Homo sapiens: one gene and its partner. The protein of the gene in region 1 interacts with the protein of each later gene in a pairwise test. Each region holds a gene or a part of one and is shown in the gene's direction. Other genes may lie near its edges.

What was found.
Region 2: the proteins of BTBD16 (region 1) and PAXIP1 interact in a two-hybrid assay, tested with the Homo sapiens proteins (one large-scale study listed by BioGRID).

The regions. Positions count from the first base shown.
Region 1 is NC_000010.11:122,291,616-122,296,386, forward strand, and holds part of BTBD16 (BTB/POZ domain-containing protein 16), read left to right. Parts: intron 1-4,771.
Region 2 is NC_000007.14:155,000,313-155,005,132, reverse strand, and holds the start of PAXIP1 (PAX-interacting protein 1), read left to right. Parts: upstream 1-2,008; 5' UTR 2,009-2,203; coding exon 2,204-2,284; intron 2,285-3,593; exon of another isoform or gene 3,594-4,820.

The DNA.
Region 1 (4,771 bases):
CTGACTTTTCCATCACTGTTGGGCCTACATTTTCCTGCTCATTTGAGATAAAGTCTTGTTTTTTCTTGTAAATAATATTTTTATTGTTATAAATGTTACATACAGTCATTGTAGGTCTTTTGGAAGAGAGGAAAATGCAAAGATCAAAGTTAAAATTGCCCTCAAATCCCCCTGCCCATTTTAGGCATAGCCTCTCTTTTGGACATTCAGACCCCGCTGGCCCACCTGGGCTGCCCATCGGGAGGGTTCATCAGGGTGTGTTGGGGGTGTGGGGAGGAGGTGGTGGGGAACCAGGAGGCATTCAAAGTGGGTTGGCATTGAATGTGAAAGCTTCCTCATCCTGACGAGGGTTGCCTGGGCTCATGGATGCAGAAATCATGAGCATGAGGGGGTAACAGACATTGCTTGGTGTTTCCACCTGCATCCAAGCAGCCGAGGAAACACACCCTGGAGGGGTGAGACTCAGAGCTCCCAGTTTGCACTGGGCTTTTCCTGCAAAGTCAAAAGTAACCTGGGTCCGTGCAGGGTCTGTGCTCAGTTCTACAATAAGGTGCCCCTTAGTCTCTATGTACACTGGCAGTCTCTGACATAAAATGTGGCTTATAACATTTGTCCCATCTACTTCCCAGGACTTTGTTGGGGATTAGGGGATGTCAGCACATAGGGCTTTAGGATGGAGTGTTTGCCTTTCAGTTCTCAGCCCCTTGCAGGGATGACCTCATTTCATCTTCCCTGCAACCCTAGGAGGTAGAACTATTACTATGCTCATTTTACAGATGAGAAGACTGGGGCTTTGGGAAGTAAGTAACTTGGCCAAGGCCACGCAGCTGCCAAGTAGAGAAGCCAGGACTCGTAGGTCAGGGGGCCCCAGAGCCTGGACCTCTAACACTGTACTATTCCACTTCGCTTGGGTGAGGTGGTAATGTTGTCACTTGCTAATTTGTGGTTCTGACCCTCCCTTCAATGGCATTTAGTCAGGAGAGGTTTGCTTAGGGTCACTCACTTGTTGGTTTATTCACTCACACCTACACTCATTCATTCATCTGCCTCAAGGACAACTTCTTAGGCTCCTCTGGGAGGCCAAGGAGACAGTGAGGGACCAGATGGGCAGGATCCCTGCCCTCTAAAGTCTCCTGTCCAACAGTCTCCATGACACCAGAAGTGAATAAAGGTGGATGGAATGAAGTTTGGGAATTCCTAACTGGAAAATGTTGTGCTATGTATTATTAAGTTCAAGCAAAATTAGTATCTATAATAAGAAAGAGCATTTCTTAGAATTTCTCCTCCCTTTTTTGTGTGTCCTGTAATATTCCTTCATTCCATTAATGCTTATGAAAGAGTAAGTGAACCAAGTGGAAAATCATTCATGGGATTCATTTCTCTAGAATATTTTGTTTCATCTCCTGGGCTTTTTGAGGGATGTGTGCCTACTGCATTGATGTCCTGAAGAGAGAGGTGGTATCTTGTAGCTTTTTTTCCCTAATTCCTGATGCAATTCAGTATAAAGAAGAGATCAGGGCAGGAGGTGGTCTGCCTGTTTTGTTTACTTCTTAAACCTCAGGCTCATTATCTGACTGAATGAAGGAATGAATGAATATACCATCCAAGCCAAGAGAAGACATTAGCTGCTCTGCAGAGGGGAGAGACAGATATCTCCTGGGGATCTTACAGGTTTCAATTCATTTTTTGTAGAGTTCACACAGTCAGATTCAACCCCATGGATGTTTTTGAGCTGGTGCCTCATTCTGGGGACTCATGAAATGACTAGGTCCAGGCCTTTGATCTGGAGCATGTGGCAGCCTCGTTGGGAACGCAGGTGTCTGGACCTCTCTGCAGGGGACACACATTGAAGAGGGCCTGGAGTCTTGAAGAAGCACTCCAGTGTGTCAGCATGGTCAGACTGTGGGGTTAGGTGGCCGTGGTAGATGGGAGATGAATAGTTGCAGGCAGAGCCAACTGGTGTAGCGTCTTAGAACCATCTAAGGAATCTGGCCTTGACCCTGAAGGTCGTGGGGTGAAAAGTCCAGGTTTTCCTGAGATTCCCGTGTCCCTTCCGTTGTATATATCACCCACTGTCAGCCCAGCATAGCCTTGTGATGTATAACTATGAAATCATAGCTCCTTTCGACAGAGTATTTCTGAGCAGCTATTTCCTGGTGCAGTCCAGGAAGTTATCTCTGACCTGAATGCTGGCAGGGTAGCTTCCATCTTGAAGTGGGGCCTCTGGCCACCTTCTGTCTCCAAGCCTCAGCTGCCCTACCTTAGGAGCAGACTGGAAGCCGCATTTAACCTTCAGAACTCTCGCCCTGGCTTATCCAGAGATGAACCAAGAAGGGCAGCTTCTTCATCCTCCTTTCCCCTCCCCCCACCTTGTTTTGAATGCCAGAGCAGGAGGGGCTTTGCAGCTAATGAGCCAAACCTTTCATTCCACTGATGAGCAAACATAGGCTTGCCTGAAGCTGATGGGACCTGCCCAAGATTCTCCAGATAATTGTGGTGGGGCTGGGATTCTAGGTCAGAGGCCAGGGCGGGCCTGCACATAGTTGGGCTGGGTCTTGCCTGCCTTTGAGAGGCTGATGGCGCAGTTGGCAGGGTGTGGCATCATAGGATACATGTGTGTTTGTGTGTCTGTGTAACGGAAGTGCCCCAGGTCACTCTGATAGCATCACAACGTTCAGGTGCTGAGTGAGACCTCACAGGTTATCTCAGCTGAGCTCCCAGGCAGTGGGAAATTGCCAGATGACAGCTTAATTCTGAATCACACATACCTGAGGCCTCCCATCTTGAAGAGATGCAGTGTGTGTGCACACAGCTTCCACTGGGTGATGTTCCTTTGACTCTCATGTCAATATCTTTATTGGCACTTGGGCTGGAGTCACAGCAGGGATTGTGGCTGTCACATGCGTGTACCAGCACATATGTGCATGCATGTGTATGCACACACACGCTCACACACATACACATGGAGCATCTCCCTGGTTGTCACTTGGGTTCCTCCAGGCTCACAGGGCCAGAGGGGCATTTCCTTGCCTCCATGCAGGGCTGAACTTCCTCTGTGGGCAACTTCCTGGTCCTTTAGAATTTCCAGAAGAGGAAACCCCCCACTTCCCTGAGCCCAGAGGCGAGCCCGGATGGCTTTCTTTGCTTCCTTTGGTCTGGGAAGTCTGATCATTCCAGTCCAGCCCAGCCAATGGGTTTCACAGTGAGGAAGGGGAAGCATAAGAGAAGGTGCCAGCCTCCTGGGGCACTCATTTCTCCCCTGCAACTCCAAGCCCAGCTAGTGCTCCCTGTAGGTTTCGACAGACAAAAGCTGGCACCTAAAGGCTCCTGGACCCGATGAGGGTGGGGCCCGAGCCTCCTGTTCAGCCTCGTCACAGCTTGGGCTTCACCCTCTGCTGACCGGTGAGGCCATGAGCTCCAGGACGAAAAGGCCTCCACCTGTCCCTGGTGGCATTTCCAGAACCAGCAGCACAGGTCAGCACAGAGCTGGCACTCAGGATGGATTTGTATGGGGAGCGCTGCTTCCCGGCAGTCTGTTGTTTCATGGGAGGTGGAGGGAGGTAAGGAACCAGGTAGAAGAAGGAAGGCATGGAAATCAAAACTAAGGCAGTATGTGGGGAGGAGCAATCAGGGTGACTTCCAAGAGGAGGTGGTGCTGGACCTGAGCCTGGAAGAATTACAGCAGTCAAAGGGGGAGAAAGAGGGGACAGGGTGGAGCAGCATCAAACTGGGATAAGCCTGGCCACTAAGACCCAATGCAGCTGCAATGGCCAGAGGTTTGGATGAGCCCAGGTTATGCAGGATCTTGTAGCCACATGAGCAGGTCTTGGTTCAGTCAGCAGAGCAGGAAGCCTGGGCTTGGGAGGGGAGAGTGGCAGAGCCTCTGTGGTTTAGGCTGAGCCCCTCCTGTGTGAAGGATGTGGTATAAATGTGGGAGGCTGCAGGGCAGGGAGGCTGGCTGTTGAGAGGCTATGCAGAGGCTCAGCCGAGAGACCAGGAGGGTCTGAACTAGGCAGGGGAAGTGGGAGCGGGAGGAGGGGCACGCTCAAGAGACAGCCAAGATGCAGGATTGACAGGACTCAGCAGTCTTAGAAGGCAAAATGCCCAGGGGATGACAGCAGCGCCTCATGTTTACTCAGTACAGGTTTCCCCAGTACTCAAGACAACTCCTTCTAATGGGTAGAGTCAGTCTCCCTGTCTGAAGGGCCGATCCTAGCACACAAGGGGGTAGAGTGCCTTGGCCATGACCAGATTATTTATTCACTTATCATTTCTTACCTTGTTCTAGTAAAGGCTTTGAGTGGCTTCCATGAATACATGAAATGAAGCCACAGAACACCAATTTTCTTTTTTTTAAGGAGGAAGAAAAAGATGGAGAAGCTACCATTGTATACTAACTCTAATAACCACACTTTTTTCCTAAGATAGGCCATACATTCAGCTCTGAACTTGCTAGCGGCAGATAAAAAGGGAAACTTGATCAGTGATATTCGATGCAAACTAGATAACAGTTTAAAAAACAATTCACTTGGGAGAAGTACAACTACTATTAGTATGAAAACTGTGGATGTCTTCAGCAGATGACCCCAAGCAACCTAATGGTCAATGTCCTCAAGAATGTCTGTAGAGTAAATGCAATAATAAATCTTATAATGTTTTTTTCTTGGTTTTGGCAAAAGCGGCACACCAAAATGCAACTCAGTAAAAGCTACTCTCCAGGGATGTGGTTGTTGGTGGTAACAAGACCCCATCTGCCTTCTGGTCTGGCCTT
Region 2 (4,820 bases), on another chromosome or scaffold:
CTCCCGAGTAGCTGGCACTACAGGTGCCCACCACACCAGGCTTGATTGTGACTTGACTGTCACCCAGTGTCACATGAGGGCAAGTGTGGAATTTTCCATTTGTGGGGTCACGTCAGTACTCAAAAAAATTCGAATTTTAGAGCATTTTGGATTTCAGATTAGGAATGTTTAACCTAAGTTTGTAAAGGAAATTTTTTAGCCTTAGAATAGGGATGTTTCAGATTGTTCAAGAGACAAATGAAAGACTAAAACAACCAGAAAACATTGGAATGATAAATCATTAAGTATATTTAAATGTGCGTTGTTTACCTCCTGCCCATACAAAACCACTCATGACATACATACAAATGTAAGGACAAAACTGTAGTCACCTGATTAACAAGAGCCAGAGTTCATTGCATGCTGATCAACGAACCAACACAACTTTTATCATACACTAAAAAAAGGGTAGAACAAAGGCCAACTTAAAGCCTGGAAAGTGATCTAATCTGTTAAATTAGTGTACCGCAGAGTAATTTTGAAAGCCTTCTCGTTTTGTTTTGTTTTTTTTCAGAGACAGAGTCTCGCTCTGTCGCCCAGGCTGGAGTGCAGCGGCGCGATCTCGGCTCATTGCAACCTCCCCCACCCGAGTTCAAGCCATTCTCCTGCCTCAGCCTCCTGAGTAGCTGGGACTACAGGCGCGTGCCGCCACGCCCGGCTAATTTTTTGTATTTTAGTAGGGACGGGGTTTCACCGTGTCGCCCAGGCTGGTCTCGAACTCCTGAACTCAGGCAATCCGCCCACCTCGGCCTCCTAAAGGATAGGATTACAGGCGTGAGCCACCGCGCCCGGCCCCTTCTCTTTTTTAAAACCAATTTCACTAACATTTACTTAAAAATGATTTTCTGCTTGGCAGAAGTGACTTAAGGCATGTGGGGGAGACACTGCGGGTCTGTCTCAGATTCCTTTAGACACCAATGCTCCACAGTTTTACGACTAGGTAATAGTCCGATAATCACCCATGAGTTCCTGGACTCCGGTTTGTTGTGGGATTGGAAATAAACGAGAAAGGCTGCGTTCATCATCATGGCCTTAATTTCTTCTCCCAACTTCCGGTCGTGCAGGTGTCTTGGGCAGGTGATCCCGAGGCCACTCTGCCGTGTTCTGTGAATCTTGGCGGAAGGGAGGCGAGCTGTAAATAAAAGCGTGACCATTAGAATCGCCGCTGTGTAGTATTAACCTGTTGAGCGCGGGGCTTCCCGGGGCTGGAGCTGCACCGCGGGCTCTGCTGTCTGGGACTCTCCTCCAGCGCGGACCCGACAGGACGCCAGGGACCAGGCCGGTCCGGCCGGGACAGCGGGGCCTCGGGCAGCGACGGGGCCGGGCCTCCCCCCAGCACGTCCCCAGCTCGGGCACTGAGGCCTTGCGGAGACCCCAGGACTCGCCGCGGAGGCCACCAGTGCGCGTCTCGCGTGGCGCTACGGCCTCGGGAATTCCGTCACGGCATAGCCGGGTCCAGCGCGGTGTAGACCGGGGCCCCGCGCCTTGCTCGGCCAGAGCGGCTCAGGTACTACTCCAGGTCCGGCCGCACTCGCGGCCACTGCGAACAGCCGGGACACCCAATCCCACTCCGCCCAGGGCCAAGAAGCCCGAGGAGGCCGCAGAACCGCTCCCGCTCCCACTCGCGGCCCCAAGGCCCCACCCCCCCCTCCGCCGCGCGCATGCGCCGCCCCCGAGCAGCCGCATGTGGCGACGGGAGGGGCCTGCCAGCTCCCCTCCTCCCCGGGACCGGCTCACTCCGGCCCCGCCGAGGGGGGAGCTGGTTTCCCCTCGTCCTCGGGGCCCCCTCGTTGCAGAGCGGCGGCCACGGAACCGCAAGGGCCAGAGCGGGCTGCCGGCGCCAGCTACCCCGGAGCCGTGGCTGGCGGCAGAGGCGCGGGGCGTCACTGGAGGCCGGGCGGCTCCTCGGCGCTCCCCCTCGGTGGCCGGGGCGGGATGGTGCGTCCCGCAGGGCGCGCGCGGCTCCCGCGCTTCGGGCGCTCGGCGCGGGCGCGGGCGGGGGCGCGGAGGGCGGGGGAGCGGACCCCGATTCGCAGGACCGGGCCCGGGCTGCGCGGGCAGGGCCGTTGGCGGGGCGAGTGGGGGCGCCGGGCGCCGCGGGGGCCGGGGGCGGGGGGTGGGCGGGGCCGGGCGCCGCCGCGGAGCCTCCCGGGCCGCCGCGATCATGTCGGACCAGGCGCCCAAAGTTCCTGAGGAGATGTTCAGGGAGGTCAAGTATTACGCGGTGGGCGACATCGACCCGCAGGTACCGCGCCCGCCCCTGCCGCGGCCTCCTCCCCCGTCCGCGTCCCCGTCCGTCCCCGTCCCCGTCCCCGTCCCCGCTCCTGCCGCGGGCGCGCGCCGGGCGCAGAGCGTCGGGTCCGCCGAGGCCGCTGGCCTGACTGCGCTGAGGGCAGGGGCGACCGCGGGGTGGGCGCGGGAGGCCCGGGCCCGGGGGAGTGCGGGAGGGAAGGCGGCTGGGGCTCTGTACCTCGGCCCCTAGTGCGCGCCCTGAGCCCCCGGCCTGCGGCCCTGGGGTCGCCGCCCCCGACCCACCGGGCCGCCTCGTTCTCTGCTCCTTTGCTGAGCGGGACGGGCGCGGGGTCGCGTCTCCCCATTCCCCGCGCCGGGCGTCTCGGCTCCCGGGAGAGCAGCTCCGAGGGCGGACGAGGGGCGCCGGGATCCCCAGCCGGGGCAGCTCGCGCGGGGACCCCAGCCTCGCTCGGCCGGCGGGGGTCGTGGCCGTGCACCGGCTTGGCCGCCTCCGCCACCCGGGCAGCTGCCGTCCTGTGCGGGGCTGAGGAGCGCTCCCTTCCAGCCTGTGTCCCTGCACGTGGGGGCTGGCATTCGTCTTCCTTGATTTTCCCACTTGGACGATTAATTTTACGGTACCCTGGTAACACCATCACATTACACATTTAATTTTGTGTAGTTTGGGCTCACGCCAAAGGATATTGTGGGTTTTCCTTAGTATTCCTATAATAATATATCTGTTTGATGTCACACAGTTATCAGTCCGTGGTAGGAATGCATCTTAGTTGAATATCCTCTTCAGGTTAATCTTCAAAATATTTCCTTCTTAAAAGTTTAGCTGTACAGTTGTGTTGCCTTGGGTGTGACATCAGTGGCCCCCACCTTGGAGGATGGGGATCCCCAGTGATCAGAGTTAGGCCTGGAAGGGCGGAGACTCATATTTCGCAGATGAACTTGGATGGTGTAGAAGGAATTGTAGAAGGCTGAGTGATCTTGGCCTTCTTGAGGTTCGTCCTTGTAACAACTTTTTGGACCCTTTTTGCCCTGTAACTTTAGGGTAAAGAGACTTCAAGGCCGGGTTTACCCCTGTAATCCCAGCACTTTGGGAGGCCAAGGCGGGTGGATCACCTGAGGTCATGAGTTCGAGACCAGCCTGGCCAACATGGTGAAGCCTCATCTCTACTAAAAATACAAAAATTAGCCGGGCGTGGTGGCGGGCGCCTGTGGTCTCAGCTACTCGGGAGGCTGAGGCAGGAGAATTGCTGGAACCTGGGAGGTGGAAGTTGCAGTGAGCCGAGATCGCGCCACTGCACTCCAGCCTGGGCAACAACAGCTAGACTCCGTCTCAAAAAAAAAAAAAAAGCCTTCTATCTTTGAATTTACAGAGTAAAACAGTTGCTGAACACGGAGCGATGAAGATGAGTGCCTGTAACAGTGTTAGCTTTTTCCAGTATTGATGATTCCCCCGCCCCTCTTTTTTTTGTTTGTTTTTTTGTTTTTGTTTTTTGCTATCCACCATTTTTCTCTTCCCCCTCCTTCCTAGCCTTCGTGTTTCATTTTAGGACTTTGGCTCTTATAGGGGACTTGAACCAAATGTTACTTAAAACCTGGAACAAGTTGAACTGGAACCATATTTACTCGACTTTGAATCAAATCTAAGTGCTTAAAAATGTCCTTGGCAAACCACTTTCATCTGAAACAGTATATTTTCTGAAAAGTTTTGAGCCTGGACATCTGATTCTCTGACTCTTATGACTGTGGATTATAAGTTCACATGTTGACCATCTAATATGAGGCAGGCATGGACTAGGTGCCAGGTATAATACAGAGGTGAAGAGGACATGGTACCTGCCCTTTAGCGCCCCTCATTGGTGGGGGAGGGAGCACACCTGGACATATCACAGTACAAGGTGTAGCAGATTTCTCCACTGGGGTGCAAAGTAGACACCACTGAAATGTCACTCAGTAGATGTCATTTCAGTTGGGTTTTGAGATAAGCAGAAGTTAAGAACATGAAGGAATATTTTCATGTGGAGCGTATGTGCTGAGGAATGAAGGCATTCATGCGTTTGGGATACATCAGGATGATCACTATATCTGGAACAGAGTGATATGAGATAAATCTATTAAGATACTCAGTAGTGTGGAGATTGAAGAGAAGCTATTGGTTTTGGCATCCTCAAAGTTCGTGAAAACCGAGTAAAGTGTTTTTGGTAGAGTGTTGGTGGAAGGGGCTGGATTGCAGGGAGTTGAAGAGTGAATGGAAACTGAGAACAGAAAGGTTAGACTCTTCAGGAAGTTTGTCCTGAGAAGGAAATAGAGAAGGTGCCTGAGGAAGAGAGGGCTGGGGAGGGATCTGTGTTGCATCACAAGCGCGTGGAAGGATGTGGGTGACTTTACTGTTTACAGGTGGAGGGAACATAGCTATGGACAGGGAAACTCATGAAGAAGGGAGTAGGATCAGAAACAGACTGGAGGATAGGAAAAGGAGGGGTGCCTTTTCTGAAGACCAGTCGAATGGATGCGTGAAGCTAAAAATGCTTAGAGGT